2 separate regions of the Homo sapiens genome follow, and region 2 is linked to region 1. Evidence: fine-mapped expression QTL. A gene starts in region 1. The other region holds a variant in brackets. All regions are shown on one strand. Distances are between the middles of the regions. Region 1 holds the start of MEGF8 (multiple EGF like domains 8). Region 2 overlaps MEGF8 (multiple EGF like domains 8).

Region 1 (14,814 bases):
TAGTTCTTTGACCCAGGCCAGGTACTGTACACGTATGAGTCGCCGGCCGGCTACGGGCTCATTGGACTGCAGGTGGCGGCCTACGTGTGGTTCTGCTATGCTGTGCTTGTCTCACTGCGACACTTTCCTGAGAAGCAGCCTTTTTATGTGCCCTTCTTTGCTGCCTATACCCTCTGGTGAGAATTGGTGGGCCCCAGCCTGTCCCTGCCTCCCTCTCGGGGCTCCCCAGAAGTGGTTGCCCCCCATCTCAGACCCTCCATAGTGAGGGAGATGGACTTTTCACTCAGGCAGCTGTTGCCCAGAATCTGCCACTTACTCACTTTGTGAAAAATTACTTTCACAAGAAGTGCATCAGGTTTACCCATAAAACAACAGGATCTCGCCAGGCGTGGTGGCTCACGCCTGTAATCCCAGCCCTTTGGGAGGCCGAGGTGGGCGTATCACAAGGTCAGGAGATTGAGACCATCCTGGCTAACATGGTGAAACCCCGTCTCTACTAAAAATACAAAAAAATTAGCCAGCCATGGCAGCATGCACCTGTAGTCCCAGCTGCTGGGGAGGCTGAGGCAGGAAAATGGCGTGAACCCAGGAGGCGGAGCTTGCAGTGAACCAAGATCGCACCACTGCACTCCAGCCTGGGCCACAGAGCAAGACTCCATCTCAAAAAAAAAAAAAAAAAACCAAACAGGATCTCCTCAGGCCGGGCGTGGTGGCTCACACCTGTAATCCCATCACTTTGGGAGGCCAAGGCGGGTGGATCACCTGAGGTCAGGAGTTCGAGACCAGCCTGATCAACATGGTGAAACCCCATCTCTACCAAAAAATAAAAAAATTAGCCGGGCATGCTGGTGGGCACCTGTAATCCCAGCTACTCAGGAGGCTGAGGCAGGAGAATTGCTTGAACCCGGGAGGCAGAGGTTGCAGTGAGCCGAGATCACATCATTGCATTCCAACCTGGGCAACAGAGCAAGACTTCATCTTCAAAAAAAAAAAAAAACAGGATCTCCTCAAAGGGATATCTTGAGCAAGCATAGGCCACTATATGAGGGCCGAGTGTCTGGCACATAGTAAATGTTCAGTAAAAAACTATTGTAGACTGGGTGCGCTGGCTCATGCCTGTACCCCCAGCACTTTGGGAGGCCAAGGTGGGTGGATCATTTGAGATCAGGAGTTCAAGACCAGCCTGGCCAACATGGTAAAACCCCGTCTTTACTAAAAATACAAAAAAATTAGCCAGGCATGGTGGTGCACGCCTGTACTGCCAGTTACTCGGGAAGCTGAAGCAGGAGAATAGCTTGAACCTGGGAGACTGAGGTTGCAGTGAGTTGAGATCGTGCCCCTGTACTCTAGCCTGGGCAACAGAGTGAGACTCCATCTCAAAAACAAACAAAAAACAACAACAACAAACAAAACAAAAAAACACCCAAAACTATTGTAATTATTATCGTTCACCATAACATAGCAATAAGGTTGGCAGATTCTGAGCCAGACTGTCCGGGTTCAGATCTCAGCTCTAAAGCTTATAGATGATGTGACCTCAGACGAGCCCATTAACTTCTCTCTGCCTCAGTTTCCTCACCTTTTAATGGGGATGGAAATTTTATCTGCTTCATAGAGTCACTGTGAGAGTTAAATGAGTTTATATACATCAAATGCTTAGAAACAGGCCTGGCATGCAATAAGTCCTTACTTCTTATTATCATTTGTTCATTCATTCGTCAAATATCTATTTTTTTTTGTTTGTTTGTTTTTTGTTTTTGAGACGGAGTCTTGCTCTGTCGCCCAGGCTGGAGTGCAGTGGCACGATCTCAGCTCACTGCAACCTCCGCCTCCTAAATTCAAGTGATTCTTCTGCCTCAGCCTCCCGAGTAGCTGGGACTACAGGCGCATGCCACCACACCCTGCTAATTTATGTATTTTTAGTAGAGATGTGGTTTCCACCATATTGGCCAGGCTGGTCTGGAACTCCTGACCTCAGGTGATCCACCTGCCTTGGCCTCCCAAAGTACTGGGATTACAGGCATAAGCCACTGTGCCCGGCCTGATTTCTTCTTTTTTTTTTTTTTTTTTTGAGATGGAGTTTCGCTCTTGTTGCCCAGGCTGGAGTGCAGTGGTACAATCTCCGCTCACTGCAGCCTCCGCCTCCCAGGTTCACGTGATTCCCCTGCTTCAGCCTTCCAAATAGCTGGGATTACAGGTGCATGCCACCACACCCAGCTAATTTTGTATTTTTAATAGAGACGGGGTGTCACCATGTTGGTCAGGCTGGTCTCGAACTCCCAACCTCAGGTGATCTGCCTGCCTTGGCCTCCCAAAGTGCTGGGATTATAGGCGTGAGCCACCGTGCCCGGGCTGTCTATTGATTTCTTATCAGATGCCAGGATTTGGGGTGGTGTGGAACTGAGTTAAATTGAACCTCCTTCTTGCCCCTCAGAATTTCCCAGTCCAGTCCTGCCCCATTTCAGTCTCTGGCTTCTGAAGGTCACACTGGCTTCCCTCCAGTTTGGGACCTGCCTGGGGTCTGCGTGTGTACATGGCAGGCGAGGTGGGGCTATAGGGTGGGGTGGAGGACAGGAGCAGTGTCTCTACTGACCCAATACTTCCCCTTCAGGTTCTTTGCGGTTCCTGTCATGGCCCTGATTGCCAATTTCGGCATCCCCAAGTGGGCCCGGGAGAAGATTGTCAATGGCATCCAGCTGGGGATCCACTTGTACGCCCATGGCGTGTTTCTGGTGAGGATGGGCATCTGTGGGGGGTGGAGGGGAGGACCCGAGGGCAGAAGATGTGTGAGGCTCCTACACCTGATCTGCTGGACCTCCTGTTCTGAGGTCTTGATCCATTTTCCTTTTAGTCATTCTCCCTTTATTGAGAGCCTGCTTGGTTCCTGCAGTCTCCTCTATTGTGCTCCTCAGAGTCCATTTTCTTCTCTTTTTTTTTTTCGAGACAGAGTCTCACTCTGTCTCCCAGGCTGGAGTGCAATGGCTTGATCTCGGCTCCCTGCAAACTCCGCCTCCCGGGTTCAAGTGATTCTTCTGCCTCAGCCTCCCGAGTAGCTGGGATTACAGGTGCCCACCACCACATGCAGCTAATTTTTTGTATTTTTAGTAAAGGCAGGGTTTCACCATGTTGGTCAGGCTAGTCTCAAACTCCTGACCTCAGGTGATCCACCCGTCTCAGCCTCCCAAAGTGCTGGGATTACAGGCATGGGCCACCTCGCCGGGCCCATGCCCATTTTCTTCTGTTCCCCTCTCCAACTTTGTGTCCTGGCTTCTTTCCTCAACCCCCATCCTCTCTCTTTGCCCTCCCTTCCCATTTCCATTCCTGACCCTGTGTCCCCAGATTCTTCCATTTCTCTTTTGTATCCCCACTGCCTTCCCCACCCTCCTTGATCTCTCCACTCTCCCCCTGCCCCTGCCCAAATTCTGCCATCACAGGCCACTGTTCAGGAAGAAGCATCTGGGGTGGCACAGGGTGAAGCTTTTGGGCTCCTGGGTCGGCAACAGGAGGGTACAGCACCACATCTTTTTTTTTTTTTTTTGAGACGGAGTCTCACTCTGTCACTAGGCTGGAGTGCAGTGGCGCGATCTTGGCTCACTGCAACCTCCACCTCCCAGGTTCTCCTGCCTCAGCCTCCGGAGTAGCTGGGACTACAGGAGCACGCCACCATGCCCGGTTAAGTGGTTTTTTTTTTTTTTTTTTTTTGAGACGGAGTCTTGCTCTGTTGCCCAGGCTGGAGTGCAGAGGTGCGATCTCGGCTCACTGCAACTTCTGCCTCCCAAGTTCATGCCATTCCCCTGCCTCAGCCTCCCTAGTAGCTGGGACTACAGGCGCCCACCACCACGCCTAGCAAATTTTTTTTGTATTTTTAGTAGAGACGGGGTTTCACTATGTTGGCCAGGATGGTCTCGATCTCCTGACCTCATGATCCGCCCGCCTCGGCCTCCCAAAGTGCTGGGATTACAGGAGTGAGCCACTGCGCCTGGCCCCCACCACGTCTATTCTTTGCCCTGGTTCACATCCTATCTGACATTCTTGGTGACAGTTCTAATATTCATTAATTTATTCATCAATTGTTCACTGGGCACCTGTCTTGAACCAGTCTGTTTCATTCTAGGAACATCCATATGCATTTACTCCTGCCCTCTTGTTTAATTGTCAGAGCAGCTCCAGGAGAGGGTGGATAATTGACATTGTTCCCACTACACAGAGCGGGGAAGCTAAGGCCCAGAGAGGAGAAGTGACGTGCCAGGGCTCCGTGGCCTTTGGCGGCAGGCAAATACTTTGAACCCTATCCTTCTCCAGCAGACCACAAGGTCTGAAATGAAGGGGAACCAGAAAGGGCAACAGGCATGACCCAGTGTCCCAGCTTCTGACTCCAGGGATCTACAACGTACCCCGTGTAGGGAGTGGGCCCAGCCACCGAGGGAGGGGACAGGTCCCCATCCTTTGCCTCAGAGGCTGACATAGGTACAGACTCGCTCACCTTCCCAGGCTGGTCTATCCTGAAGCTCTGCAGGAAGTCAGAAAGGGACAGAAAGAGGAGAAATGCTGAGAACCCATCATGTGCTGGGCTCTGCACCAGTGGTTTTCATTTCCACCCTCTCATCTTTCCAAGTAGGCGCTACAGTCCCTTTTCCCCACAGCGAGGCTCAGGGAGTTTAATCAACATGCCCCAGATCCCATACTCAGTGAGCTACAGATCCCAGAGGCGGGATGCAGGCTCAGAACGGCAAGCACAGCGCCCTTCCTGCTGTATCTCAGCCAGCTTCCTTCCTAAGGATGCTCACGTTAGCTCAGCACAGCTCCACCTGGGTATCTCAACGCTCATTGCTTTCAGCTCCTTGTTCATTTTTTTCAGCACAACCTTAGAAGAGCTGTGTTAGGTTTCCGGGATATGGCGGTGGAGTCACACCCAGTCCCTGCCTTCACAGCCTATCAGACTAACTGGTACCAGACATCCCTACATTCCACCAATATTTATTTATTTATTTATTTATTTTAAATTTTTTTTTTTTGAGATGGAATCTTCCTCTGTCGTCCAGGTTGGAGTGCAGTGGCATGATCTCGGCTCACTGCAACCTCTGCCTCCTGGGTTCAAGCAATTCTCCTGCCTTAGCCTCCCAAGTAGCTGGGATTACAGGCGCACCACCACACCTGGCTAATTTTTGTATTTTTAGTAGAGATGGAGTTTCACCATGTTGGCCATGCTGGTCTCAAACTCCTGACCTCAGGTGATCCGCCCGCCTCGGCCTCCCCAAGTGCTGGGATTACAGGCGTGAGCCATGGCGCCTTGCCCACCAATATTTACTGAAGGCTTATATGCGCCAGGCATGGTTCTAGAAGGTACTAGGGACTCAGTAGGGAACAGAAGAGTCTGGTTCCTGCCTCATCGAGACATTTTAGAGTCTATTAGTTGCTGTCCAATTGAACTTTCTGTATTTATGAAAATATCCTATTACCTGCACTTTCCAATATGGGAGCTACTAACCACATGTGGCTGTTGAGCACTTGAATGTGGGTAGTGCATAGTGAGTGTGTAGTGAGGAGTGTGACCAAAATTTAAATTTTATTTTGATTAAATTTAAGCTACATGCAGCCAGTGGCTATCATACAGTGCAGGACGCTGACCCTAAGCAATCAGTGACAGCTCAGTGATCAGGCCTCTGATGGAGGAAGCACAGGCCGAGTTTTGTTGAAGGGAAAAGGTGAGGGTCCAGGGCATTTGGAGAGCCCAGAGGGGACGCCTAATCCAGTGTGAATGGCTTCAGGGAAGTGTGGTGGATGTCAACTGAAAGGGAATCCTTCGGACCCCAAGTTTATGGGGACAGCCTCCGGCCTGACAGTGCCTCTCACACCTGCTCCTGGCCCTGGCCTCAGATCATGACCCGCCCATCAGCGGCCAACAAGAACTTCCCGTACCACGTGCGCACGTCGCAGATCGCTTCAGCCGGAGTCCCTGGACCCGGAGGGAGCCAATCCGCTGACAAGGCCTTCCCGCAGCACGTCTATGGGAACGTGACGTTTATCAGCGACTCGGTGCCCAACTTCACGGAGCTCTTCTCCATCCCCCCGCCCGCCACCTCCGTAAGCCCCGCGGCCCCAGCGCCCGAGGAGCTGCTGGCGCCGCCCCTGGAGTACCTGACCCCGCTCCCGGCCCCGCCGCCGCCCCCAGCGCCCGGACCCCTGAGCCCTCCTCCTGCCTTTCGCACTCCCCGCGCCCCAACACCGCGCCGCGACCGTCCCCTGGCGCCCGCGCCCACCCTGCCTGACTGGGTTCTGGCGCTGTTGCGCACACCCCCGCAGACTCCCTGCGCCGTGCCCCCACCGCCCGCCTTCCGCGGCTCTCCCCCAGCTCCCCGGCCGCCGCCGGAGTTCGCCCCGCGCGCCCCGACGCCGCCCTTTGAGTACCTGGCCCCGCTGCCCAGGCGCCCCGCCACCCAGTCCTTCCCTGACTGACAACGTGCGTCCACACCTGGGGTGGAAGGGTTCTCCGGGGGAGGGGGACGGGCCTTCGGGGCCGCATCTGCCCCCCGAGGGTCCCGGACGGCCTCTGACCCTGACCCCCCTCCCAGGCCGGGAAGCAGGTGGAGGAGACAGCGGTGGCGGCGGCGGTGGCCCCGAGGGGCCGCGTGGTGACCATGGCCGAGCCGGGCGCAGCCTCCCCCCCACTTCCCGCTCGGTTCCCCAAGGCGGCCGACTCGGGCTGGGACGGCCCGACGCCGCCCTACCAGCCGCTCGTGCCCCAGACGGCAGCGCCGCACACCGGCTTCACCGAATACTTCAGCATGCACACGGCCGGGGGCACTGCACCCCCGGTCTGAGCACCCCTGCCCGCCCCTGCCCCATGGGCCATGACCGGGCCCCGGCCGGGCTCCGGACCCCTGCTTTATCCCGGCCCGAGAGCTCGCCCATCCCCGGCCTTCCCGACCCTTCCCACCCCGCGCGCCCAGGTTGGGTACGCTGCGTCCCGCCCCCCTCCCCTCTGTGCCAAACGGTCCCGCGGGAGCCGCTCTCCCCGTCCCCTCCCTCAGCCCCTGCCCCGAGCGGCGCCGGATTCTGGGCTCCCGCTGTTCCGTGACCTCCGGCCCCCTGGCCCCCTTCGAGACCTCTGACCCCGCTGGACTCCGGAACACCCGTGGTGACCGCCGGGACCCTGCCTGTGACTCTCCAGGACTCTGCGACCCCGGGATGGATATTGCGATGCTGGTCTCGACCCTGAAACCCTCCCTCGGATCTGTGACCTCGGACCCGTACTCCATCTGCCGCATCTCCATTCCGGGGGCCTTCCCTCGGGTCCCTGGCAGAAAGACATTTTACCCCTTCTTGCCAAAATAAAAAAGGATTCGTTTTTATCTATAACATGGCTTCTTTTGCATCTTGATGGTGTTCAGCGGCGGGGCTGAGCCAGAACTATGTCAGGCTCGGGACCTCAGTGTGTCCATCTGTGAAATGGGAATTTGGAACCGGAGGCAGGGGCCTGTATAACCTGATCTTTATGTTGCCCCAGAATGTGGGAACATTGAAGATGATCAAACATCTAGCAGGGTCTTGCACCGCTCCTTTATTTTTGCCTTCCTTTCCTCACTCAGAGGTAGAGGCGCCCTCCAGTGGCCCATGCTTTGCTGAACCACAGGCACCCAGAGTTTGGGTTACGATCTTAGCACTGCGCATATGTGTATTTCTCTCCCTCCAGGAGGACGCTGCTGCGCATGCGGTTGGGAACAAATGGGCGGGGATTTCCCCGGAAGTCTCCCTTTATGGAGGGTTGGGGTTGGGCGCTCCGCAGTCCTCCCAGGGCCGCTCTGACCGGCCGCTCTGTAACTTCTCGCCTCCTCTTCGCCGTCCCTCCCACAGCGGCTGCTCGGCTCCCGCCCCCTCGCCCTCCCACAGCGGGTCTTCCCGCGGCCGCTCTGGCCCAAGCGTCCCCTCGTCTCTCTGATCTGGCCCATCCGGCTTCGGAGGGAGGCGAGGGTGGGTGAGCAAAGGGATTGGGTCTGTGGGGTCCAGGCCCGAACCCCTGAAGACGGGCTCCGCCCCCGGCACCCGCTCGCGCCCCGCCCCCGGCTGGAGGAGTCTCTCCTGGACCATCCGAACCTAGCCTGTCCCGGCCCGCAGCCTCTATGGAGGCTCCTGCCGGGCCGTAGAGCCCTTCGCCCCCTGGGGACCCACCCGTCTATAAGGTCCGTTTGGCCTGCAGCAGCCTGAGTCCGTAATGCTGGGCACTGTTCATGGGATCGGCCCCCTATGGAGCCCTGTGTCTATAGGGGACTCCTACGGTCCCTAGGGTTCGGCCCCGTCCATAATGACTCCATATACAGGGCCTTCCATCGCTCTATAGGGCTCAGCCCTCGGCTTCCAGAGCCTGTCAGCAGTGGCCGTACCCTTCGCCGGGACTGCCGGGTCTCCGGGACCTCTTCGATCTACAAGGTCATGTTATGCCTATAGAGGTCGCATTTGCAGGGCCTCACCCCGGGTAGAGGGTCCTCTCCAGGTTTTTACGGCCTGTCCCCGCTCTAAGGGTCAGTGCAGGAGGCGGCGATGGCCCTGGGCAAGGTTCTGGCCATGGCACTGGTTTTGGCCTTGGCCGTGCTGGGGTCGCTGTCCCCTGGGGCCCGGGCGGGGGACTGCAAGGGGCAGCGGCAGGTGCTGCGGGAGGCGCCAGGCTTCGTGACGGATGGTGCGGGCAACTACAGCGTCAATGGCAACTGCGAGTGGCTCATCGAGGGTGAGTGGGGCCGCGTGGGTCACTCACTAATTCGCTGGTAGTTCATTCATGTGTGCATTCATCCACTCACCACATTCCCAGAGCTCGGTTCTGGTCCAGGCCTTTTGCTCTAAAATGCCTGACACCCAGGGTTGCAGCCAACCTGGGCCCTGCCCTGGAAGGCCTCCAAGTCTGGTGGGGGAGATGCACCTACACCCAGATTTACAATTACAAGACAGGAGCATCAGTGCCGGGCCTTCTGAGTAACTGTTAAGAACTCAGGGTCTGGGTCCAATCATTTGGCTTTGAATTTGGTTCTACTACTACTACTTTTTTTTTTTTTTTTTTTTGAGATGGGGGCCTCACTCTGTCACCCAGGCTGGAGTGCAATGGTACCAACACAATTTACTTACTGCAGCCTCGACCTCCTGGGCTCAAGTGATCCTCCCACCTCAGCCTCCCAAGTAACTGAGTGTGTAGAGACAGAGTCTCACCATGTCGCCCAGGCTAGTCCTGAACTCTTGGGCTCAAACGATCCTCGCACCTCAGCCTCCCAAAGTGTTGGGATTGTAGGTGTGAGCCACTGTGCCTGGCTTCTTATTATTAGCTTTGTGACTTTGAGCAGGTGGTTTTCTTTCTCTGAGGTTCTGTTTCCTTCCCCCACAAATGGGATAACAACAGTACTCACCTCATAGAGTTGTTGGAATGAAATGAAAACAGGTATTTAACATGCCTGATGTGTGGCATATAGTAACTGTTCAATAAATGGCATTAGGATTATTGTTGTTGTTATTTGTGAAGTACTTCAATAAAAGCATTTTTCTTCAGTCATTCATGTGCCAGACATTATGTTTCCCATTGGACATAGCCCAGACTGAGACAGCTCCAGCAATCCCTGGTGACTTAGGTCTTGGAGTCTAGTTGGGGAGACAAACACATTAATAGTGAGAGACAAGAGTGGTCTTTGATGGAGGAACCCCAGAGGCCTGGGAGAGCCCAGAGAAAGTGCCTGATCTGGGGCCGGGGAGAACAGAGAGGCTTCCTGGAGGAGGAAATGTCTAAGCTGAGACTTAAAGGACCAATAGGAATCTGTCAGGAGTGGGAGGAAAGGCCCCAGCCCTACCCTTCTGGGCTCCCAGTCAGTGGGAGAGACAAACCCACTCCGAGGCTGTTTGTTTTCCTTTTCCACCCAATAAACTCCTATGCATGCCTCAGAACCCTGCCCCAGTGGCTCTTTCTCTGTGAAGACATGTGGCTTAACCTGGGGTATAGCTGAGATCAGAGGCATCTGTACGAGGGAGCAGAAGGGCATTCCAGGCAAGAATAGCTGTGCAAAGGCGGGGAAGCGGGAGAGTGATGCTTTTGAAGAACTAGAAATCCAGTGTGTTAAAACATAGAATACTGGCAGGGTATGGTGGCTCATGCCTGTAATCCCAGCACTTTGGGAGGCCGAGGCCGGCAGATCGCCTGAAGTCAGGAGTTTGAGACCAGCCTGGGCAGTATGGTGAAACCCCATCTCTACTAAAAATACAAAAATTAGCTGGGTGTGATGGCGCGCGCCTGTAGTCCCAGCTTCTCAGGAGGCTGAGGCACAAGAATCACTTGAACCTGGAGGTTGCAGTGAGCCAATATTGTGCCACTACGCTCCAGTCTGGGCGGCAGAGCGAGACTCCATCTGAAACAAAAACAAAAACATAGAATACAAGACAACGAATGAGCCAGAGGCTGCAGGGTGGGAGGAGCCAGCAGGTGTAGGGCTCTGTGATTTTGAGCTGTATCCTGAGGGCAATACAGGGGTGAAAGAGAAGTTGAAAGGCAGTACCTGCAGAAGCCCAGGAAGGCCTCACAGAGTAGTGGATGTAAAAGCTGGCCTCCAGACAGGGGAGGTCCTGGGCAAAGGCCAGAGGTGTGACAGAGCCTGGATCATGCAGGGCCTCCCTTGGGAGGCTGTGGAGCTTTGTCTTTGTCTGGGGGCTCTGGGGAGCTATGGAAGGGTTTTGAGCAGGGAGAGGACATGATCTGATTTATGTTTTAGAAGATCTCTCTGGCTGCTGTGTGGGGTATGGATGAAGGCCTGTTTCTCAGTGATAGCATGTCTACCTGTTCCCAGCTTGGGGGCCATTCCTGTCAAGCTAGTGGGATGAGAACAGAATAGGAAGTGTGTGTGTGTGTGTGTGTGTGGCGAAGGGGTCTGTGTGCTGGATATAAATCACTCTCTGGCCTTAAAGAGTCCCAGACTGGTTAGGCCAGGTGCGGTGGCTCACGCCTGTAATCCCAGCACTTTGGGAGACCAAGTGGGGCGGATCACCTGACGTCAGGCTTTAGAGACCAGCCTGGCCGACATGAAGAAACCCCCTCTCTACTAAAACTACAAAAATTAGCCCTGCGTGGTGGCGCACATCTGTGGTTCCAGCCTGGGTGACAGAGCGAGACTCTACCTCAAAAAAAAAGAAAAAACGTCTCAGACTGGTTGGGAATGGTGGGGCTGGACACAGATATTCAGCCCCCAGTGTGTTCACTGAGACAGTGCTCAGGGCTAAGAAGGAAAGTGGAGGGGTGGGGTGGATGTACCTAGGGAGGAAAGAGGACTGTGCTGCAGATAACAGAGCAGGAGCCACTAAAATAGGGTTCTGAAGCATGCATAGGAGTTTATTGAGTGGGAAAAGGGAGCAAACAGCCTCTATGAAGACGTGAGGGTGGCTGGAGTGTCTCAGGATCCCCATCTAGGTTTGCCTGGTCTTATGGCACTTTTGACTGGGAGGTAATGAGAGCCAGAAGCAGGGGAAGAGGGGCCTTGAATGTCACACTGAGCAGCCTGGCCTTCCCCTTGGGGTTGATGGGCAGCCACAGGAGGTTTTGAGCAGGAGTAGGGCATTGCCCTCAGGTTGGGTGTGGGGCAGACTGGAGACTTGATGAGCTGATCTGGCAAGAGAGGATGAGTTCCTAACTAGGGCAGGGGCTTAGAGGGGTGGAGAGGTGTAGACAGTGCAATCGATGTTTGTGGAGTTTCACCTATAAGACTTGGGGACCAACTGGGTAGATGTTGGGGTGAGGGAGGAGGCTGGGAGACCTCCAGATCCCCCTTGATGATCTTCTGTTCTTACCAATGCCTGTCACTTCTTACCTATAAGAACCAACATCTTCCTCTATCTATTATAAAATAAACAACCAGCCAGGGGCAGTGGCACATGCCTGTAATCCCAGCACTTTGGGAATCTGAGATGCAAGGATTACTCGAGCCCAGGAGTTAGAGACTAGCCTGAACAACATGGTAAGACACTGTCTCTACAAAAAAATTACAAAAGATTAGCTGGGCTTGGTGGGTGGTGGCATGTGCCTATAGCTCCAGCTACCGGCGAGGCTGAGGTGGGCAGATCCCTTGAGCCTAGGAGGCTGAGGTCTCAGTGAGCCGAGATTGCGCTGCTATACTCCAGCCTGGGCAGCAGAGCGAGACCCTGTCTCAGGGAAAAAAAAAAAAAAAAGATAAACAACCAACCTACTAACTTTTGTATTATGTTCATACTTTATCTAGTCCTAGACTTTTTTTTTCCGAGAGAGAATCTTGCTCTGTTGCCCAGGCTGGAGTGCAGTGGCTTGATCTCGGCTCACTGCAGCTTCTGCTTCCCAGGTTCAAGTGATTCTTGTTCCTTGGTTTCCTGAGTAGCTGGGATTACAGGCATGTGCCACCATGCCGGGCTAATTTTTGTATTTTTAGTAGAGATGGTGTTTCTCTATGTTGGCCAGGCTGGTCTCAAACTCCTGGCCTCAAATGATCTGCCCTGGGATTACAGACGTGAGCCACCACGCCCAGCCCAGTCCTAGTCCTTATAACATCCTCATGGATAAGAGGCATCCTGCTTTTGAGCAGGAGGGAGTTTGGGATCAGATTTCTGTCTGGAGTGGTATGGGGGTTGGGTGGAAACAGAAGACCTTCAACTTAGGGAAGAACTTGGGGAGGCAGATGGTGAGCTGGCCTCCAGCAGGCACTTAACAAAGATGTACTTGTGATTCCAGAAACAGAGCTTTATAGTTTGGTTGAGGCTGGTAAGATTCTGGGAGGTCTGGTTGTGTGGCCGTGCTGAATGGTTCTTCTGCATTCCCCAAAGCATGGGTGGGGTCTGTGTCTGATGTCTTGGGGGCTCTGGTTAGAGCCTGAGGGAGAGCTTCCAGCTTTAGTATTCTGTCTTTTATGTATTTCTTCATTTCATCATCCAGCATTTCCTGAGCCTTTGCCAAGCCCGGGTCTGGGCAATGCTGCAGAGGGAATTAGGTCCACATCCAGGCCCTGCTCTATGGGCCTTGTAGGCTGCAGGGAGACAGACCTGGACATAGATGTTCCTGGCCCAGAGGAATGAAGGTTATAATGGGATGTGAGAACCCTGGAGAGGGGGCATCTAACCCAGCTAGGGGGCATCAGGAAGAGGCCTGGTGGTGGGAAGGGATAATATGTTGCAGACAGAGGGAGAAGCTTGTACAAAGGCCCAGCTCCCATTAGAGCTGTAAGCAGTGGGGTGATTTGAGACAAAGCGAGGGTCTGAACAGCAGGTTAGGGACCTGGACTTTCTCCTAGGGTGGTAGGGAGCCATGCAGGGCTTTGGGGCAGGGGAGGGACGGGGCCAGATGTTGAGTTGGGAAGATCAGAGACTCATGTCAGGGGAAGAAGGAGGTTGGATCAGTGGTTCTGGTGAGACAGGATGAGGCCGGGCAGCCAGGGCACACTCTGGCTCTAAGCTGGCAGGCTGGAGTCATCACCTCGTTGAATGTTCACCCCAGCCTTTGTGGGTGGGGGGAATTATCCCCATTTTACAGTCATGGAAACTAAGGCTCAGAGAGCCCATGGAACTGGCCCAGGATCACCCAGCCATTGGCAGTGGTGGCTGAGTGTCTCCAGGATCCAGATAGGCACACTGAGGGTCATGGGGGAAAGGGCTGGCCCAGGGTCCTCCAGCTGGTCATGGGCAGAGCCAGAGCCAGAGCCAGAGCCTAGGCCTCCTAATTTCCCTCACCCAGAGGACTCCCCTGAGCTGCCTGTTCAGAAGGCTTCTCATGTGGGATGTGGAATGAGAGAGGCTACCTGAACTAGGACTGGCAGAGAATAAGACAGTGACAGTGTTAGGGGTAGTGGCACTCTCCACGATATGTGGGCCCCATTGTCAACATTTCTTTTTTTTTTTTTTGAAACAGAGTTTCACTCTTGTCGCCCAGGCTGGAGTGCAATGGCATGATCTCAGCTCACTGTAACCTCTGCCTCCCGGGTTCAAGAATTCTCCTGCCTCAGCCTCCCAAATAGCTGGGATTACAAGCATGTGCCACCATATCCAGCTAATTTTTTGTATTTTTAGTAGAGACGGGGTTTCACCATGTTGGCCAGGCTGGTCTCGAACTCTTGACCTCAAGCGATCCACCCACCTTGGCCTCCCAAAGTGCTGGGATTATAGGCGTGACCCACGGCACCCAGCCTCTTTTTTTTTTTTGAGTCCCCTCTGTCGCCCAGGCTGGAGTGCAGTGGTGCAATCTTGGCTCACTGCAACCTCTGCCTCCCGGGTTCAAGCAATTCTCCTGCCTCAGCCTCCTGAGTAGCTGGGACTTGCACCACCATGCCTGGCTAATTTTTGTATTTTTTTTTAGTAAGAGACAGGGTTTCACCATGTTGGCCAGGCTGTTCTGGAACTCCTGACCTCAGGTGATCCACCTGCCCTGGCCTCTCAAAAGTGCTGGGATTACAGGCGTGAGCCACCCACCCCACTCTGTTGTCACCATTTCGTGTGCATTATTGCTCCTCATGAGGTTGCAGTCAGATGTCAGCTGGGGCTGCAGTCAGCTGAATGTTCACCTTGGCTGGACATCCAGGAAGGTCCCTCCCAGGGCTGGCAGTTGATGCTGGCTGTCAGCTGGAAGCTCAGTTGGGACTGTCAGCCGGAATGCCTGTGTGTGGCCTTTTCTTGTGGCTTTGGCTTTTCTTTGTTTTTTTTTTTGAGACGAAGTCTCGCTCTTGTCCCCCAGGCTAGAGTGCAATGGCACAATCTCGGCTCACTGCAACCTCTGCCTCCCAGGTTCAAGCAATTCTCCTGCCTCAGCCTCCCAAGTAGCTGGGATTACAGGCACCCGCC
Region 2 (14,814 bases), 20 kb after region 1:
ATGTGTGAGCCACCATGCTTGGCCTTTTTAACTTTCAATTTAGGTTCAGTGGTACAAGTACAGGTTTATTATATAGGTAAATTGTGTGTCATGGGGATTTGGTGTACTGATTATTTCATCACCCAGGTATTAAGCCTAGTACCCAACAGGTAGGTTTTTTTTTTGTTTTTTTTTTGGGGATGGAGTCTTACTGTGTTGCCCAGGCTGGAATGCAGTGGTGCAATCTTGGCTCACTGCAACTTCCACCTCCTGGGTTCAAGTGATCCTCCCGCCTCAGCCTCCTAAGTAGCTGGGAGTATAGGCGCATGCCACCACACCCGGCTAATCTTTTTGTATTTTTAGTAGAGACGAGGTTTTGCCATGTTGGCAAGGCTGGTCTGGAACTCCTGACCTCAGGTGATCCGCCCACCTCGGCCTCCCAAAGTGCTGCGATTACAGGCGTGAGCCACTGTGCCCAGCCCCAGTAGGTAGTTTTTTGATCCTCTCCCTCCTCCAACCCTCAGGTAGGCCCCTCAAGTGTCTGTTGTTCCCTTCTTTGTGTCCCTGTACACTCGATGTTTTGTTCCCACTTGTGAGAACATGCAGTATTTGGTTTTCTGTTCCTGTATTAGTCTGCTGAGGATAAGGGCCTCTAGCTCCATCCATGCTGATGCAAAGAACATGATCTCATTCTTTTTTATAGCCACATAGTATTCTATGATGTATACGTACCACATTTTCTTTTTTTTTTTTTCTTTCTATGTATTTTTTTTTTTTTTTTTTTTTTTTTTTGAGACGGAGTTTCGCTCTGTCGCCCAGGCTGGAGTGCAGTGGCGGGATCTCGGCTCACTGCAACCTCCACCTCCCAGGTTCAAGCGATTCTCCTGCCTCAGCCTCCCGAGTAGATGGATTACAGGCGCCTACCACCACAGCCGGCTAATTTTTGTATTTTTAGTAGAGACGGGGTTTCACCATGTTGGCTAGGCTGGTCTCAAACTCCTGACCTCAGGTGATCCACCTGCCTCGGCCTCCCAAATTGCTGGGATTACAGGCGTGAGCCAATGCGCCTGGCCTCCATTTTCTTTATCCAGTCTATCATTGATGGGCATTTAGGTTGATTCCATGTCTTTGCTATTGTGAACAGTGCTGCTTTGAACATACACGTTAGAACAATTTATATTCCTTGGGGTATATACCCGATAATGGGATTGCTGGGTCAAATGGTAATTCTGTTTTAAGTTATTTGAGAAATCTTCAAACTGCTTTCCACAATGCCTGAACTAATTTACATTCCCATCTGCAACCTCACTCGCATGTGTTATTTTTTGACTTTTTGATAATAGCCATTCTGACTGGTGTGAGATGGTATCTCATTGTGGTTTTGATTTGCATTTCTCTCATGATTAGTGATATTGAGCATTTTTTCATATGCTTATTGGCCACGTGTATGTCTTCTTTTGAAAAATGTCTGTTCATGTCCTTTGTCTACTTTTTAATGGGGTTGTTTTTTGCTTGTTAGTTTATTTAAGTTCCTTATAGGTTCTGGATGTTAGATCTTTGTTGGATGCATAGTTTGCAAATATTTTCTCACATTCTGTACATTGTTTACTCTGTTGATAGTATCTTTAGCAGTAACTTTTTCAAGATCACAGTAGATAAGTGACAGAGCCAGCATGGCTATCCCCAAACAACAATCTGTATAAAACTATCACTTAAGGCCGGGTGCAGTGGCTCACACCTGTAATCCCAGCACTTTAGGACGCCATGGCGGGCAGATCATGAGGTCAGGGGTTTGAGACCATCCTGGTTAACATGGTAAAACCCCATCTCTACTAAAAATACAAAAAATTAGCTAGTCATGGTGGCATGCGCCTGTAGTCCCAGCTACTCAGGAGACTGAGGCAGGAGAATTGCTTGAACCTGGGAGGCAGAGCTTGCAGTGAGCTGAGTTCGCACCACTGCACTCCCACCTGGGCAACAGAGTGAGATTCCGTCCCCAAAAAAACAAAAACAAAAACTATTACTTAATCTCTGTGCCTCAGTTTGCTCATCTGTGAAATGAAAATTATAACACGTAATGCCATTGGATAGCTGTAAGAGTAAATTGAGATGATCCTTCAAGAATGATGCCCAGTGAAGTGCTCCACACATTTCCTTTCTTTTTTAAAATTTTTATTATTTATTTTTGAGACAGAGTCTTGCTCTGTTGCCCAGACTGAAGTGCAGTGGTGTGATCTTGGCTCACTCCAATCTCTGCCTCCGAGGTTCAAGCAATTCTCATGCTTCAGCCTTCTGAGTAGCTGGGACTAGAAGCGTGTGCCACCACACCCGGCTAATTTTTGTATTTTTAGTAGAGATGGGGTTTGCCATGTTGACCAGGTGGGTCTCGAACTCCTGGCCTCAAGTGATCCATCTGCCTCGGCCTCCCAAAGTGCTGGGATTACAGGCGTGAGCCACCGTGCCTGGCCTAATTTTTGTATTTTTTTAGTAGAGATGGGGTTTCACTGTGTTGACCTTGTGATCTGCCCGCCTGGGCCTCCCAAAGTGCTAGGATTATAAGCATGAGCCACCGTGCCCGGCCAGGCATTATTATTATTGTTGTTACTATTTTGTTTTATTTTACTTGAGATGGAGTCTTGCTCTGTCACCCAGGCTGGAGTGCGGTAGCATAGTCTCCACTCACTGCAACCTCCACCTCCCGTGTTCAAGCTATTCTCCTGCCTCAGCCTCCTGAGTAGCTGGGATTATAGATGTGCACCACCACTCCTGGCTAATTTTTGTATTTTTGGTAGAGTTGAAGTTTTGCCATGTTTGCCAGGCTGGTCTTGAAGTCCTGACCTTAAGTAATCTGCCTGCCTGGGCCTCCCAAAGTTCTGGGATTACAGGCATGAGCCACCACGCCCGGCCTATTGTTACTATTTTAGAGGCAGAGTCTTGTTCTGTTGCCCAACCTGGAGTGCAGTGGTGCAGTCATAGCCCACTGCAGCCTTGACCTCCCGGGCTCAAGCAGTCCTCCCACCTCTGCCTCCCAAGTGGTTGGGACCACAGGCCCATGCTACCCTTCCCAGCTAATTAAAAACAGAATTTTTGGCCAGGCACTGTGGCTCATTCCTGTAATGCCAGCACTTTGGGAGGCCAAGGCGGGAAAATCGTGAGGTCAGGAGTTCGAGACCAGCCTGGTTAATATGGTGAAACCCTGTCTCTACTAAAAATACAAAAATTAGCTGGCGTGGTGGTAGATGCCTGTGGTCACAGCTACTCAGGAGGCTGAGGCAGGAGAATCGCTTGAACCCAGGAGGCGGAGGTTGCAGTGAGCCAAGATCGTGCCACTGCACTCCAGCCTGGGTAACAGAGGGATACTCCATCTCCAAAAAAAAAAAAAAAAAAAAACACACATAAAAACAGATTTTTTAAAATTTTTTGTAGAGATGAGGCCTCCCTATGTTGCCCAGAGTGGTCTTGAGCTCCTAGGCTCAAGTCATCCTTCCATCTCAGCCTCCCAAATAGCTGTGACCATAGGCACACAATACCACGCCTGGCTAATTAAATAAAATATTTTTGTTTTTTAGAGATAGGGTCTTGCTGTGTTGTCCAGGCTAGTGTTGAACTCCTGGCCTCAAGCGAGCCTTGTGAGATCCAGCCTCCCAACGTGCTGTGATTATAGACGTGAACTACCACGCCCAGACATATTGTCTTTCTTATAGCAGTTAGGGTCCTGTCTCAGGGCCAGAGGGGTCACCAGGGAGGAGATATGGAGAAACCTTTCACTCTCATTAAATCAGACACTGCTTTGAAATCGGATGAAAGCCACAGGCCCTCTCTTCAGAAGATGCTTATACCTGCAAGTTGGGCGTATCACTTCGGGGACGTGTGGGCTTCCCAGAGTCGCATCTGTTCACTCCTCCTCCCTGAAAAGGAGAGAGAGGAGAGGACAAGCGTAAGGAAGGAACCTTAGCACTTAAGGGATGGGAAGGAGGAAAGGCCCCAGAGGAACCCTGTGTGACCATCAGGAATAAAGTCCAGGCCTGGTGTCTGAGGCCCTCATTCTAGGTCTCGTCTGCCTATCCCTTGGTCCCCTTCACTGGGCAGGAGTCAGGAGTGTGATGTTTCTGGAGGCCTCTTCCTGCTTCGCAGTTTGTGATTACCTGGGCCAAGTCCCACACGTTTACAGTGCACGCAGGTCAGTAAGAGGGTAGGGAAGTCACCATTCACTGACCACTTACCTGTCAGTCAGGATTCTTGGCTGTAACTGACAGAAACCCAACCCAGCTGGCTTAAGCAAAAAGGAGAATTTCTGGCTGGGCACGGTGGCTCATGCCTGTAATCCCAGCACTTTGGGAGGCCGAGGCGAGTGGATCACGAGGTCAGGAGATCGAGACTGTCCTGGCTAACACAGTAAAACCCCGTTTTTACTAAAACACAAAAAATTAGCCGGGCTTGGTGGCGGGCGCCTGTAGTCTCAGCTACTTGGGAGGCTGAGGCAGGAGAATGGTGTGAACCCGGGAGACAGAGCTTGCAGTGAGCTGAGATCGTGGCACGGCACTGCAGCCTGGGTGACAAAGCGAGACTCTGTCTCAAAAAAAAAAAAAAGGAATTTCCTGGCTCACTTGAGTGAAAACTGTAGGGGCTGTCTTCAGGCTGGGCTGGATCTAGGTGCTCACAAAATGGCATCAGCCATTTCTCACTCAATTTTTCAGCTGGGTTCACTTCAGTCTCTTGCCTTGTGTAGATGGTCACAGGCAGCTCGTGGATTATCTTCTGCCATAAAATGCCCAGAAAGAAGGGAGTGTCTTTGCCCCAAGAATTGAGAATCAGGCCCTGTACCCCTCCCTGAGCCAGTCACTGAGACTGATGGGCCTGGGCTAAGGCCTCACTTCTGCCAGAACCAGGGACAACTCCACCTAAGTCTCACAGATTGGGAAAGGGAAAGGTTGGTTTTCCAGAGGAAAATCAGGCGCTATCACCAGAAGAGAGGCTGGTGCTAGACAGACAAAAATGGGAGACTGAGGCAGCCTACTGGGGGCTCAGCAGATTCTTCAGTCCTCCCAGCTCCCTGAGGACGAGATGATGGTTCTTTTTATAGAGGAGGAAACCAAGACTCAGAGAAGTTCAGTCTCCTGTCCAGGGTCACACAGCTAGTCAGTAGTTGATCCACGATTTGAACCCAAGTAAGTGGTAGATGCAGGATTTGAACCCAAGTCTTTCTGACCCTAAAGATCAGAAAGATGATTTGGGTAGGGGCGAGGGAGCTCAGCTTGTTCAGGGCCAGGTGGGCTGGGAGAGTGTCCTTGGGCAGGTGAGGTTGAAGCAGCCACCGGAATAGAAGGCTGGGCTGTGGCCCAGGAGAATCAGGAGCCATGGAGGTGGTGGAGGGGCTGGGGGTCTAATAATGTCATTGGGGTCTCTATTCCCCTAGGCCGAGCAGCGCCTCCCAGTGGTCGGTACTCACATGTAGCTGCGGTGCTTGGTGGCAGCGTCCTGTTGGTGGCTGGGGGGTACAGCGGCCGGCCCCGTGGGGACTTGATGGCGTACAAGGTGCCCCCCTTTGTGTTCCAGGCACCTGCCCCTGACGTGAGCACTGGGGTGACAGGGAAAGGGTGGCTGGGGGGAGGAGGTAGCAGGGTTTCCACAGGTGAGGGGAAAGGCAGGAGGGGATCCCTGGGAGAAGGAGTGGGGATCCCTAGGACCATGAGAGAAGGGAAGGAGGTCCCTGGGGCAGAGGAAAGAGGAGCTAGAGGTCCCTGGGCCTGGGGGAGGAATGGATGGGCATGCTGAGCACTCAGGGTCCTCTGGGATAGCTAAAGCAAGCGGGGACTTGGGAGGCCGGCCCAGGTCTGAGAGGCCTCCTCCTCCGTCCCCTTGCCTCCCCCTCTGTCCCCTTGCCTCCCTGCAGTACCACTTGGACTACTGCTCCATGTACACAGACCACAGCGTCTGCTCCCGGGACCCGGAATGCAGTTGGTGCCAAGGAGCCTGCCAAGCTGCACCCCCTCCTGGGACCCCCTTGGGGGCTGTGAGTGACAGCCCTAGACCCTCTGTTCCCTAGCATAGAGACCTGCCCTCAGTGTCTCCCTCTGCCTAACCAGATGGACAAGAACTTTCCCTCAACTGGGAGACTTGTTTTCATGCCGGAGATCCTCCTTCCTGATTCCTGACTGCGGAGCCCTGAACCTTTGCCTATCCCACCCAGCCCGACCCTTTTGAGCCCGTGACCCCATCCCCGCATCCCCCGTCCTCTGGATCTCCCACATTCCAAGTCAACTCCCCGTTCTTCAGTTTTTTCGCCCTTTCCATCGCAGGACCCTGTATCCACAGCCCTTCCTTCCCAGATCTCTTGAGCTCCAGTTGACAGTGAGCCCTTTCCCCTCTCCTCCTCGCAGTGTCCAGCCGCCAGCTGCCTGGGCCTGGGCCGCCTCCTGGGTGACTGCCAGGCCTGCCTGGCCTTCAGCAGCCCCACAGCCCCTCCACGGGGACCTGGCACCCTGGGCTGGTGCGTGCACAATGAGAGCTGCCTCCCTAGGCCTGGTGAGTGTCCGCAGCAGTGGGCCGGCAGGAGGGGGCCAGAGCACTCCACACTGACCCACCGGCCCCCACCCCCTGTCTTCTCAGAGCAGGCCCGCTGCCGAGGGGAGCAGATCTCAGGCACTGTGGGCTGGTGGGGGCCTGCGCCTGTCTTCGTCACGTCCCTGGAGGCCTGCGTCACCCAGAGCTTCCTGCCTGGCCTGCACTTGCTCACCTTTCAGCAGCCGCCCAATACCTCCCAGCCTGACAAGGTGGGTAGGAGGCGTGGCCCTGGGTGGGGTGTTGATGATCCTGATCCTAGGGTTTGTTTTTTCTCAAATGCATCTTTATCACTCTTATGTTTACTCCAAAACTCTTTACATTCAAGGGTCTTATTTTCCTTATGGACTTTATTTTTTATTTTTTTTGAGAGGGAGTCTTGCTCTGTCACCCAGGCTGAAGTGCAGTGGCGCAGTCTCAGCTCACTGCAACCTCTGCCTCCTGGGTTCAAGTGATTCTCCTGCCTCAGCCTCCTGAGTAGCCGAGATTACAGATGCCCGCCACTGCGCCCAGCTAATTTTTGTATTTTAGTAGAAGACGAAGTTTCACCATGTTGGTCAGGCTGGTCTTGAGCTCTTGACTTTAAATGATCCGCCTGCCTTGGCCTCCCAAAACTCTGGGATTACAGGCATGAGCCGCTGTGCCTGGCCTCCTTATAGATTTTAAAAAGAATTTTTACATTGTGGTAAAATACACATAAAATTTTTCATCAGTGACATTTAGCACATTTACAATATTGTGCAATCATCACCACTATCTTGTTACAGAACATTTTCATCACCCCAGAGGACAACCCTGGACTCACTAAGTAGTCACTCTCTATTCCACTCTTCCCCCCGGTCCCTGGCAGCTACTAATCTGTTTTCCATCTCTGGATTTGCCAGTTCTGGACATTTCATGTACATGGAGGCCTGTACTATGTGGCCTTTTGTGTCTGGCTTCTTTCACTCAGCGTAATGTTTTCAAGGCTCATTCATTTTATAACTTCATTTGGAAAGGAACTCTATTCCTTTTTATGGTTGAGTAATATTCCATTGTATAGATGGACCACATTTTGTTTATCCATTCATCAGCTGATGGACGTTTGGGCTGTTTCCATCTTTTGACTATTGTGAATAATGCTGGTATGAGCACTTGTGTACACGTTTTTGTTTGAACATCTGTTTTCAATTCTTGTGGCTGTATACCTAGGAGCAGAATTGCTGGGTTATATGTTAATTCCATATTCATCTTATTGAGGAATGTCCAAACTGTTTTCCACAGTACCTCTTTATTGATTTTTTGTTGTTGTTGTTGAGACAGAGTCTCTCTCTCTGTCGCCCAGGCTGGAGTGCAGTGGCACGATCTTGGCTCACTGCAACCTGCAGCTCCCGGGTTCAAGTGATTCTCCTGCCTCAGCCTGCTGAGTAGCTGGAACTACAGGCACTTGCCACCACACTCGGCTAATTTTTTGTATTTTTAGTAGAGATGGGGTTTCACTGTGTTAGCCAGCATGGTCTCGATCTCCTGACCTCATGATCTGCCTGCCTCAGCCTCCCAAAGTGCTGGGATTACAGGCATGAGCCACCATGCCCGGCCTCTTTATTGATTTTAAAAATAGCTCATATATTCACATGGTTCAAAAATCACAGTGACATCAAAAGTCATTGGGGCTGGGCACGGTGGCTCACGCCTGTAATTCCGGCCGAGGTGGGCGGATCTCTTGAGGTCAGGAGTTTGAGACCAGCCTGGCCAACATGGTGAAACCCTGTCTCTACTAAAACTACAAAAATTAGCCGGGCGTGATGTCGGGTGCCTGTAATCCCAGCACTTTGGGAGGCTAAGGTGGGAGGATCACTTGAGGTCAGGAGTTTGAGATCAGCCTGGCCAACATTACGAAATCCCATCTCTACTAAAAATACAAAAATTAGCTGCTCATGGTGATGCGTGCCTGTAGTCCCAGCTACCTGGGAGGCTGAGGGAGGAGTATCTCTTGAGCCTGGGAGGCAGAGGTTACAGTGACCCAAGATCACGCCACTGCATTGCAGCCTGGGCAACAGAGTGAGACTCCATTTTAATTAAAAATAAATAAATAAATAAAAGGCTGGGCACGGTGGCTCACGCCGGTAATCCCAGCACTTTGTGAGGCCAAGGCAGGCGGATTACAAGGTCAGGAGAGCGAGACCGTCCTGGCTAACACAGTGAAGCCCTGTCTCTAATAAAAATACAAAAAAATTAGCTGGGTGTGGTGGTGAGCACCTGTAGTCCCAGCTACTCAGGAGTCTGAAGCAGGAGAATGGCGTGAACCCGAGAGGTGGAGCTTGCAGTCAGCTGAGATCATGTCACTGCACTCCAGCCTGGGTGACAGAGAGAGACTCTGTCTCAAAAAAAAAAAAAAAAAAAAAGAAAAAGAAAAAGAAAAAAAAGTCACTAAATGGACAGTCTCTCTCATTTACCC[C/A]ACTCCCTACCCCTTAAGTGGTCCAAAATTATCTAGCTCCAGCATGGCTGCAACTTAAGGCCACCATACCTCCCTGGAAGATCCATTTGGGTTTCTTTGATCTTATTCCAGAATTTACCTATTCAGATGCAAGTAAGCATGACATCATATCATTTTTCTTTCTCACTAAACTAATATACTATGAACATTATACGACTGCTTCCTTTTTTTCTTCCTGGCAAGCTTCCCATAACAGAACTTAAGAAACACTCTCATTCTTTTTTTTTTTTTTTTTTTGAGATGGAGTCTCTCTCTATCGCCCAGGCTGGAGTGCAGTGGCAAGCGATTTCAGCTCACTGCAACCCTGCCTCCCGGGCTTAAGTGATCTTCCCACCTTAGCCTCCCAAGTAGCTGGGATTACAAACATGCACCACCATGCCTGGCTGTTTTTTGTATTTTTTTTGTTTGTTTTGAGACGGAGTTTTGCTCTTGTTGCACAGGCTGGAGTGCAATGGCGCAATCTCGGCTCAGTGCAACCTCTGCCTCCCGGGTTTGAACGATTCTCCTGCCTCAGGCTCCCAAGTAGCTGGGATTACAAGTGCACGCTACCACTCCCGGCTAATTTTTTGTATTTAGTAGAGATGGGGTTTCACCATGTTGGTCAGGCTGGTCTTGAACTCCTGACCTCAAGTGATCTGCCCACCTCGGCCTCCCAAAGTGCCCGCCGTGCCCAGCCTTCATTCTTCTTTTTTTTTTTAAGTTGTATAATATTCCATTTACATTTGTAGTTTATTTAAATAGCCTCCCACTGGTGAACACTTGGACTGTTCCACTCTTCTGCTATTACAAAATCACACACCAGGAAAATAAATCTTGCACTTTGTCTGCCACTTTGAATATTAGATCTGGGCTTTGAAGTGCTTAGCTGGAAAGGTGAGGAGTTGGATAAGAAGACACTGAAGTGTCCAGTCCTGGAGTTTTAATGTGAGATGGAAATGGCTAGAGGCCAGGGGTAAAGGTGGGCTCTGGGACCCTGTCGTCTATTGTCTGAATTTAGGTCTTGCCTCTTTTCCCAGAGTGACCTTTGACAAGCCACCTAACCCCTGTCCCTCTGCCTCAGTCTCTCATTTGGTAAAATGGGGAAGAAGGTTGGGTTGACCAGTCTTTTCTGGCTCTGATGTGGCCTGTGAGTCCAGAAAGGGACTCACACATACACCCATCCCTGGTGGCACAGGTCTCAATTGTCCGCAGCACGACCATCACCCTAACACCCAGCGCAGAGACAGATGTGTCCCTGGTCTACCGTGGCTTCATCTACCCAATGCTGCCTGGAGGGCCAGGTGGACCAGGGGCTGAGGACGTGGCCGTGTGGACGCGGGCCCAGCGCCTACACGTCCTGGCCCGGATGGCCCGTGGCCCTGACACGGAGAACATGGTGAGGCCGCCTGGGACATTCAGGGGGTTGTTTATGGTAAATAGGGAGTTAGGGGTGTGGTATAGAGCATCTGTGGTGATTTGAAGGTTCTGGGGAAGGGCTGGGGAGAAATTAGAGGCAGGAGATGGATTTTTTGTGTGTGTGTAAGACAGAGTCTCACTCTGTTGTCCAGGCTGGAGTGCAGTGGCGCGATCTCGGCTCACTGCTACCTTCACCTCCCAGGTTCAAGCAATTCTTCTGCCTCAGCCTCCCACGTAGCTGGGATTACAGATGTGCATCAGCACTCCTGGCTAATTTTTTTGCATTTTAAGTAAAGATGGGTTTTCACCATGTTGGCCAGGCTGGTTTGGAACTCCTGACCTCAGATGATCCGCCACCTTGGCCTCCCAAAGTGCTGGGATTACAGGCGTAAGCCACTGCGCCTGGCTGGGAATGGATCTTTCGTAGAGGAGGGAGGGTGCTGAGGTTTTCAATTGTGAGCAGAATTTGAGGGAAACTTTGAAGCAGGTGAGGAAGGTCTGAGTCAGACTTGAAAGGCCCCTGAAGGCTGGGCATGGAGGTGTACACCTGTAATCCCAGCCCTTTGGGAGGTAGGGGCAGGTGGATTGCCTGAACCCAGAAGTTTGGGACTAGCCTGGGAAACATGGCGAGACATCATCTCTCCAAAAAATACAAAAATTAGCTGGCCATGGTAGCATGCACCTGTAGTCCCAGCTATTTGGGAGGCTGAGGTGGGAGGATCACTTGAACCTGGGAAGTTGAGGCTGCAGTGAGCCATGATCGCATCACTGCACTTCAGCCTGAGTGATGGAATGAGACCCTGTCTCAAGAAAAAAAAAAAAAAAAAAGCCCCTGAGGAGGAGGGTCCCTGGGGGTCTCACCTCTGAGGTTCTCAGGATCTAAGGAGCTCTGAGGCCCTCTTCTTAGGAGGGGGTGGGGTACAGGGTGGGTTTGGAGGTATCAGGGGTCTGAGGAAGGAATGGGAAGGGTTCTGAGGCCCCTGCCTATCACTCACACCTACCCCAGGAGGAGGTGGGGCGCTGGGTGGCTCATCAGGAGAAGGAGACGCGGCGGCTGCAGCGCCCTGGGTCTGCTCGCCTCTTCCCTCTGCCTGGGCGGGACCACAAGTATGCAGTAGAGATCCAGGGCCAGCTCAATGGCTCGGCAGGCCCTGGGCACAGCGAGCTAACTCTGCTGTGGGATCGGACTGGTGTGCCAGGAGGCAGCGTGAGTACCCAGGACCTACCTCCAACCCTAGCCGCAGGCCCCAGCCTCAGATCACCTGGGCTTTCTGAACCCCAGGCCACAAACTCTGAAATCCCTAGATTCTGGCCTCGGACTCCTTAACTCTTGGCCTCTGAACTCTGGACCTCCTCTTGAACCCTGTGGCCCCTGACCTCTGCCTATAGACCCTAACCTGATCCCATATTTTGACCCCCATCTTCTGACTCCTCACCCTTGACCCTGCTGACCCTGACCTCTGCCCTCCATACTTTGACCTATAATAATCTCCAGATTCCTCCAGACCTTGGACCTCTTTACTGATTTCCTAAATCCTGACTTCCTATGTGCCTGAGTTCTCAACCTGGGCTCCAAACCCTTACTTTCAGTTAGCGCCAGACTCTGACCCCTGCCCCAGACCTTGACTGCTGCCTTCCTGTGACCCCTTCCCCAGGAGATCTCCTTCTTCTTCCTGGAGCCCTACCGCTCGTCGTCCTGCACCTCCTATTCTTCCTGCCTGGGCTGCTTGGCAGACCAGGGCTGTGGCTGGTGCCTGACCAGTGCCACCTGCCACCTGCGCCAGGGCGGAGCCCATTGCGGGGATGACGGGGCTGGTGGGTCCCTGCTGGTGCTGGTGCCTACCCTCTGCCCACTCTGCGAGGAGCATCGGGACTGCCACGCCTGCACCCAGGTGCCTGTGGGGCCACCAGGGGAGGTCACAAGGTGGAGGGAGCCACAGCAGGCAATGGGCAGTCAAGGGAACCCCTGGTGGGGGGTGTGGGGGAAACAGCAAGGGCTTTTGGCCTTGATCTGCAGAGCCTGGTGGGGAGGGTGAGATGGAGCTGTAGAGAGAGGCACCTGGGGAGTCAGGACTCTCCCTGTTGTAGGGGCCAGAGAATGCAACTCCATCCTTTTCCACTAGCGGGGAGTTTCTCAGCATAGGCACTGGAGCCCAGGAGTAGGCCTTCAGGCCTGCCACCTCCAAGTGATGTCAGGCAGCCCTCGACACCCTGCTTCCTCTTGTTCCCTGGGAGGGTTTGTTTCCTTGTGAGTGGCAAGGGAGCCGTTAAGGGTCCAGGCTCTAAGTCCCTGCTCTGTCTCAAACAGAGTGAGGCTTCCTATTTCTCTCCCCCCACCCCACCACCATCCAGGAGCTCAACAGAAGTCCCAGAATTGCACTTCTGTGGCTCTGGTTGGGCCTTGTACAGGCTCCTGGGCCAATGACTGGAGTTGTGGGGAGGGAATGTGGCCCCTTGCCCACCTCTGGATCCTGAGGATTGAATAAGCCCCACCCGGACCACACAGAAGGGGTGCTATTGCCTAAAGGAGACAGTGGGTGCTGGGCGGGCCGACCCATGGGTGTCTGTGGTCGAAGGGAGGGGTCCAGAGACGCAGGCAGCTGGGGAGGGAGATGGCCTTACAGGGACAGTCTGCAGGGTGGGGCAGGGGGTGGGATGGGCACTGGGAGTCCAAAGGAAAGGGCTGAGTGGGGTTCTGACTCCTCTGCCCAACTGACCCCCAGGACCCCTTCTGTGAGTGGCATCAGAGCACCAGCCGCAAAGGGGACGCGGCATGCAGCCGGCGGGGCCGGGGTCGGGGTGCCCTGAAGAGTCCAGAGGAGTGTCCCCCGCTCTGCAGCCAGTGAGTCAGGCTGGGTGCAGGGAGTGGGTGGGTGGATGTGCCTGGGGATGTGTGCTGGCTGTGGAGTGACCTGGCCCCCTGCTCCCCACCCCAGGCGACTGACCTGTGAGGACTGCCTGGCCAACTCTAGCCAGTGCGCCTGGTGCCAGTCCACCCACACCTGCTTCCTGTTTGCTGCCTACTTGGCCCGGTACCCACACGGGGGCTGTCGAGGCTGGGACGACAGGTATGGTCCCTGGGGCAGGGCTAACAGAGGAAGATTCCCCACCGGCAAGGGGCTGGGGCTCTGACCCCCACCCCTGCCATCCTGCAGTGTACACTCGGAGCCACGGTGCCGGAGCTGCGATGGCTTCCTGACCTGCCATGAGTGTCTGCAGAGCCACGAGTGTGGCTGGTGTGGCAATGAGGACAACCCCACACTGGGACGGTGAGCCCGGGCAGGTGGGTGGGCAGGGTGCCCGGCTGTGTCCTTCCTCCATGACCGGTCATTCTAATGGCCTCTTTGCTTCTCTGCCCTCTTGCCCATCCCATGGCCACCTTCCCTTTTCCGTACTGTTTTTCTGTTGTTTATTTTACCCTCCCGCTCTTTTTTCTCCATTTTTCCTCCTTTTCCGGCTCTCTGCGATTCGTTTTCTTTCTCCTTGTCTGTTTCTGTCTCTCCGCTCTCCCTTTCACTGCATCTCTGTCTATGTCTCTCTTCTGTCTTCCAAAATTGTTTTTGTCTGCGACTTCTCCTGGTTTCTCTGTCTCTCTTTCCAAATTTGTATTTGCATCCCTCTCCTTCCAATTGGCCTCCTCTCTCCCTGTCATTGTTTCTATGTATGGCTCCTGTTTCTATGTTGTCCCCCGCTTCTTCACTCTCCCACCCTGCAGGTGCCTACAGGGGGACTTCTCAGGGCCCCTCGGTGGGGGTAACTGCTCCCTGTGGGTGGGGGAGGGCCTGGGGCTTCCCGTGGCCCTCCCTGCCCGCTGGGCATACGCCCGCTGTCCTGACGTGGATGAGTGTCGCCTGGGCCTGGCCCGGTGCCACCCGCGGGCGACCTGCCTGAACACGCCCCTCAGCTACGAGTGTCACTGCCAGCGGGGCTACCAGGGTGATGGCATCTCACACTGCAACCGCACGTGAGTGAGGCGGGGGTTGCTATGGAGATGTTGCCCCAGGCTGGGGCACATGGAGGTGGAGGGAGGAAGCCATCATGGCGCTGGGTCCCCTCCTGTGGAACCAGCATCCCCAGTTAGCCAGGGGTTTTTACCTTGCACACTAGGTCCTTATTAGAGTGACAGGGTCCCCAGTGTAACCCTGGTTACCATGGAAATGGGGCACCCATAGGCTGTGGGCCATAGTCTTCAGCGTTGCCATGGAGGCGGAGGAGGACCTAGTTGAAAGAGGTTTTCACAGTGGTGCTATGTGGTTGCTATAGAGACAGGCTTGGTGATGCATGGAGTTACCTTGGAGACAGGGTCACCCACATAGCCCAAAACCATGGAAACAGCCAGTGGCTTTGATGGTGTCATGGTGGGTGGAGATGATGGGGTGCTTTAGGGGCTCTGGGCCTGCCTG

Evidence for each region. PIP is the estimated chance that this variant, and not a neighbour inherited with it, causes the effect. A credible set is the group of variants that fine-mapping cannot tell apart.
Region 2: its variant is the best candidate, but not a certain one, in a credible set for the expression of MEGF8 in whole blood (TOPMed, PIP 0.58).

Annotation. Positions count from the first base shown.
Region 1 is chr19:42,317,706-42,332,519 of GRCh38, forward strand. MEGF8 (multiple EGF like domains 8) reads left to right here and starts at 7,930. Exons shown (of 42, transcript NM_001271938.2): 1 at 7,930-8,725. The coding sequence starts at 8,539. It overlaps TMEM145 (transmembrane protein 145), which reads left to right. Exons shown (of 15, transcript NM_173633.3): 12 at 4-176; 13 at 2,612-2,732; 14 at 5,878-6,084; 15 at 7,032-7,359. The coding sequence ends at 7,112. RefSeq lists silencers at 7,856-8,045, 8,086-8,225, 8,446-8,515, 8,526-8,595.
Region 2 is chr19:42,338,082-42,352,895 of GRCh38, forward strand. It overlaps MEGF8 (multiple EGF like domains 8), which reads left to right. Exons shown (of 42, transcript NM_001271938.2): 9 at 5,396-5,550; 10 at 5,873-5,992; 11 at 6,360-6,504; 12 at 6,589-6,752; 13 at 10,191-10,391; 14 at 11,418-11,618; 15 at 12,067-12,303; 16 at 13,135-13,253; 17 at 13,348-13,479; 18 at 13,567-13,680; 19 at 14,127-14,375. MIR8077 (microRNA 8077) reads left to right here and starts at 13,050; the gene lies at 13,050-13,124. RefSeq lists an enhancer at 11,722-12,223. The variant C/A (reference allele first, on the strand shown) is at 8,978.